2 separate regions of the Homo sapiens genome follow, and region 1 is linked to region 2. Evidence: fine-mapped expression QTL. Tissue or cell type: whole blood. Region 2 holds a variant in brackets; the other region holds the start of a gene. All regions are shown on one strand. Distances are from middle to middle.

Region 1 (2,757 bases), 51 kb before region 2:
CCCTGGGTTTCAGAGAGGTTTAGTAATTTTACCATTATCCCTCAGCTTGTAAGCCTGGAGCTAAGCCCCTTCCTCTCCTGGGCCGGGGGGCTTTCTGACAATTTAGGGTGCTAGTCTCCAAACTCGCCTGCTGGTGGAGCTTGTTAAATAGATCCATTCTGGATCCCCATTCTGCACCCCCTGAGTGATGGGTTGTATTAATCCAGGTATTTATTGAACACAAATTATGTGCCCACGATGAGGGAAGAGCAAACAAAGCAGATACAGCACCACCCTCAGGGATTGGGGAGTGGCAGCAACCCTCCTGGGGAGAGGTCCCCAGAATCTGGATGTGTACTCGAGACTTTTATGATCAGGCCAGTGTTTGGGGAATGGTGGTTATAAAATGAGAGGCTGGGGCAGGGAGTGGGGATGTTCTGAGAACCTGTCCACACACTGACAGCCTCAATGGGTTCTGTGGCACCCCTGAGCCCTGGGATGGCAACTGCAAGAATTTACTATCCATGGTCACAGATCTTCAGGCCCTGTGAAGCATCCAGATCCCCGCTCTGAATAGGCCAACTGGGCCAGGACCGGGAGTCAGGAAGGTTTCCGCCTTTTTTTTTTTTTTTTTTTTTTTGAGATGGAGTCTTGCTCTGTCGCCCAGGCTCCAGGCTGGAGTGCAGTGGCACCATCTCGGTTCACTGAAATCTCCGCCTCCCGGGTTCAAGCGATTCTCCTGCCTCAGCCTCCCACATAGCTGGGATCACTGGCACGCACCACCATGCCCGGCTACTTTTGTATTTTCAGTAGAGACGAGGTTTCGCCATGTTGGCCAGGCTGGTCTCAAACTCCCGACCTCAGGTGATCCGCCTGCTTCGGCCTCCCAAAGTGCTGGGATTACAGGCGTGAGCCACCGCGCCCGGCCCCTGCTTTCTTAAAGAACACGCGGCAGCTGTGTGTTACACGCTATGGCTGAGGTCAAGTGTGAGGGCTGGAATTGCTGACTGCCATGTTCTGGGTCTACTGAAAATAGCTGCCTGGCCTGGGAGGCCCAGTTCAGTCCGGGTGTGGGTCCCGCTTCACCTCCAGAGCAGCGGCAGCCGGTAAGGGTAGAAGCGGCCTTTGGAGAGGGGTCTCTGCAGCGGCCTGGGGACAAGATGAGGGCTCCTTTGAGTCCTGGGGTGCAGGTTATAGTAGCTAAAGGGGAGGTCTGAGACAGTGGGGTCTGGCTCCAAGGTAAAGAAGGAGCAGCAACCAAAAGGCCTGATGCGCAGCGCACCCATCGCAAGCATGGGCAGTGCGTTTAAGACTGGGTGACTCACTTTTTCTCCTATAAAATGGGCGCACGCAGGCCCCAGCTCAGCGCCAGAAGGGGGAGCCCCGGCGCGCCGGCAGAAGACAAAGGAAAAAAGCGTGTTTGCAAACGGGGAAGCGGCGGCGTGCTGCCGCGAGGGGCGGGGCGGGGCCGGGGGAGGAGCCCGCCTGCCGCCTGCCAAGCCCAGTGGTCCTGGCCGTGCGCCGGAGGCAGCGGCGGCGTGGCGCAGCGGCGACAGTAAGTGCGGGCCGGCTCGGGCTCTTCCGGCTACGGTCCCGGCCGCCCCCAGACTCGCGCTCAGCGACCTCCCTCCCGGGCCCTGGGGGCGGCTGCGGGCTGCCAGGGGAGCCGCAGGACCCTACCCCATCCGTGGTCCCTTCCCCACCGTCCCTCCTCTCTCTCCTTGCTCTCTGCCACCCCTCTTTCTGGGTCTCTATCTTCTCTTCCCCAAATCCTCTCCCCTCCTCCTCCCTGAGACTGGACCTCACCGCCTGTATGGTGGGGGCCTGGTATGGACCCGTCGGCCCGAAGTATCCAGACGGTGGCTGATTCTCTCGGTCCCAGCTGCGGGGCCTGAGGCTGGGGCTGTTTACACCGCAAAGCCGGTTCTGCCGCGGCCAGTAGGCGGTGCCCTGCGCTTCCCAGTGCCTTCCCACAGGTTAGCCCTACCAGCTCCCCACCCCGGTTCACAGCCCAGGAGATCGAGGCACAGAGGGGCGAGCCACCTAGCCAGAGTCAGGAACCTCCTTGGAACCAGCACCCAGGCTTCCCAGCCCAGATGAGGTTTTGCCGCGGCCCCAGCAGTGCCTGCCTCCTTGTGTGGGGCTGTCTGTCTGTGCATGGCCGGGCTCCCGCAGGTGACCCAGGAGCACGTTCCAGGCCACAGCCAGCTTGTTTTGGGGAAGGTTGGGCACTTCCTTGCCTGCCTTTCTCTTTATTTTTTAATCCAGAAGCCAGCAGCTAGCTTTTATAAAGACTAATAAGACTTTGCTCACTCCAGTGCCCTGGCCTGTGACCCTGGTTAGAGAAAATTCCTGGCTCCTTCTTCAGAAGCTCAGTCAAGCCTTGACAAATAGACGCTAGGAACTGAGAAGGGGGCCCTAGCCAGGTGTGGTCCTGAGTGACAGGGCTGGTGGACCTTCTAGCCGCCCCCACAGGTAGCTGGAGCCTCTGGAAAGAACCACTTGCCGGTTCTCTCTTGTTCTATGTGGGTGGGTCATGATTATTTTTTACATTTTAAACACTAATTTTTAAAATGTAACAAGTGAGCTTGTTACATTTGTACCATTTTGTGCCAGACAAAATAGCATAGACTGGGTGGCTTAAACAAAATTTGTTTCTCATGGATCTGGAGGCTGGGAAGGGCAAGATCAAGGTGCTGGTTGATTTGGTTTCTGATGAGGGCTCTCTTCCTGGCTTGCAGACAGCCTCCTTCTTGCTGTGCCTTCACATGGCTTTTC
Region 2 (2,757 bases):
TTCCAATCCTAACCCCCAACTTGATGGTATTAGGAGGTTGGATGTTTGGGAGGTGATTAGATCATGAGAGTAGAACCCTCATGAATGTGATTAGTAACCTTATAAAAGAGTCAACAGAGCTCCCTCACCCCTGTGCCGTGTGAGAACACAGTGAGAAGATGGCCCTCTGTCAACCAGGAAGCAGACCCTCAGCACACACCAAATCTGCTGCAACCTTGATCTTGGATCTTCCAGCCTCTAGAACTGTGAGGAATAAATTTCTATTGTATAGAAGCCACCCAGGCTATGATATTTTTGTTATAGTAGTGTGAACAGACTAAGACAAATGTCAAGGAGCTTGGCTGAACTGTGTTTGTGTTCTAGTGTTTTGTGGCAGGTAGAACTTGAGAGTGATGAAACAAGATGTTTAGCTGAGGACATTTCTATGCAATATATTGAAAGTGTGGCTTGGCTTCTCCTAATAACATGTGAGAAAAGAGAAATGACTTAAATATGGAATGGTGAAGTAAAAAGGAAGCAGAACTTAAAGATTTGGAAAATCCTCAGCCTATTCATATTGCAAAAAATGAGAACACTACAGGTGTAGCGTAAACAAATGACTGTTTGCTAAGGAGATCAGAGTAGAGCAACAATCCAACCTGGGCTCTGCAATCCACTGCTGGCCATGAGCTTGGGAGCAGGCCCTGCTTCTGCAGCAGGATGAGTGTGGTCTACATCAAAGTAAAGGGAGGCACTGACCATTGAGCAGCTACTATGGTCAGGCTCTGCCTATGTACAGTATCCCTGCCAGGTGGGGTGGGTCATCCCCATTTTACAGATGAGGAAACTGAGACTCAGAAAGATTAAGTCAGTAAGAGACCATGTTAGAATTCAGACCAGAGCTAGGAGGCTCCAAAGCCTGTCTTTCCTCTTCACCCTGCTGCCTTAAAAGATTGAGAAGGGCACTTCCAGTTTACATGGTTTGTGGATCTGAGGACGCCCAGAGCACATGCTGGGTAGACAGGGTAAGGAGGGGGAGAAGCAGAGTCAGGATGAACTTGTCCGGTGTGAGGGACAGGGGCCACCCAGCCTGCCCTCAGTGCTTCTATGGTGGCACTGATGGGTCACTGGTCATCAATACCCAAGGCTGCAGATGTTATAGGCACTTGAAACATAAGGTTCATGAAGGCAAGAGCAAGATTTACAGAGCATGTGATACAGGCAGAGAGCTTCACCATCTGGATCTCAGGTGCCACATGCCTCAAGCCTGTCCTCTCCAACGTGCCAAGGAACCGTGGGTGGGTCCACCTTCGCAGACACAGAGAAGAGTAAAGTATGAAGTTCTAGGATAACCATGCCTTCTGTTCCCAACTTAAAACATATGCCTAGAGCTGGTGGGGCCCTGAGGCCACCAAGTCCAACCTCTGCCCCTCAGCAAGACCATACTTGGGCTACTGTAAACCAGCTGGCACCAGGCCTGTGCTGACCAGCAGTTTCTAACAGATTTAAGTTCCGGAGGCCCAAGGAGATTGAACGTCCTCAGTGCTGT[C/T]CTTCTTATTTGTTTATTTATTTATTATATATATTTTAAGAGATGGAGTCTTGCTATGTTGCTGAGGTTGGAGTGCAGTGGCTGTTCGGAAGTGCAATCATAGCTCACTGCAACCTCCAACTCCTAGGCTCAAGTGATCCTCCCACCTCAGCCTCCCAAGTAGCTGGGACTACAGGCATGTGACACTGTGCCCAGCTTTTTAAAAAAATGAAATATAACTATATTTTCCAAAACAAAATATTGGTGAGAAAAGTGCCATTGTTTTGCAGTTTTTAATGTAATTTTTTATTGATACATAATAGAGGTATATATTTTCAGGGTACATATGATAATTTAATACACTGATATCATTTGTAAAGATCAAATCAGGGCAATTGGGATAGCCATCACCTTAAATATTTGTCTTTTCTTTATACTAGAAACATCTAAATTATTTTATTATTTATTTTTTAATTTTTAATAGAGACAGGGTCTCTTTATGTTGCCCAGGCTGGTCTCGAACTCCTGAGCTCAAACGATCTACTCACCTCAGCCTCCCAAAGTGCTGGGATTACAGGTGTGAGTCATCGCGCTTGGCCCGAATGATTCTCTTCTAGCTATTTTGAAATGTATGATAGATTATTGTAAAGTGTAGTGAATACTGATCCATCAAGCACTAGGTCTTACTGATTGCTGTTCCGATTCTGGAAAAAGCCCCCACGTTCCTAGCCCACTTCCTATGCACTCACTCCAGGGTGAAGGATGTGAGGTCCTCTTCCCAGCACTTTCACCCAACGGCCTCCATCACTACTGCACTAGCCCGCCCCACTCCTTGGAGTTTAACCAGGGCAGAATGTTCTCATGGCTCTAGACTTCTGATGTCCTTGCTACTTCCTTCTAAGAGTCTTATGTGGGTCTTAATCTGGGGCCTCTGGGTGGAAAGAGGGATTCATGGAACCCCTGAGATCATATGCAGAAGTTTCTGTGCTTTGGGAGAGGGGCTATAGCTTACATCAGATAGTCAAAGAGGTCTGCATTCCAAGGTTTCCGAGCCCCTGGGTGCCAAGCTACAGTGACCCGTCCTGTTTAATGGTGTTCCTGGACAGAGCAATGGACAGAGCACAGTGCTTAAGAGCAGGGACTTAGAAGCCAGACTGCCTGATTTTGAACCCCGACTCTATGTCTTATTAGTCAGTGATCTTGGACAGGTTTCTTAACCTCTCTGTGTCTCTGTTTCCTTATCTGTAAAA

What was found. PIP is the estimated chance that this variant, and not a neighbour inherited with it, causes the effect.
Region 1: it holds the start of SLC29A3, and the variant in region 2 is fine-mapped to the expression of SLC29A3 in whole blood (INTERVAL, PIP 0.91).

What each region holds. Positions count from the first base shown.
Region 1 is chr10:71,317,777-71,320,533 of GRCh38, forward strand. SLC29A3 (solute carrier family 29 member 3) reads left to right here and starts at 1,483. Exons shown (of 6, transcript NM_018344.6): 1 at 1,483-1,534. The coding sequence starts at 1,534. It overlaps LOC124902445 (a long non-coding RNA gene), which reads right to left and starts at 1,887. Exons shown (of 2, transcript XR_007062183.1): 1 at 1,786-1,887; 2 at 193-1,128. RefSeq lists a silencer at 1,280-1,729.
Region 2 is chr10:71,368,975-71,371,731 of GRCh38, forward strand. It overlaps a transcript of SLC29A3 not described here. Among named protein-coding and RNA genes, the nearest start is that of CDH23, 27 kb to the right of the region's middle. The variant C/T (reference allele first, on the strand shown) is at 1,529.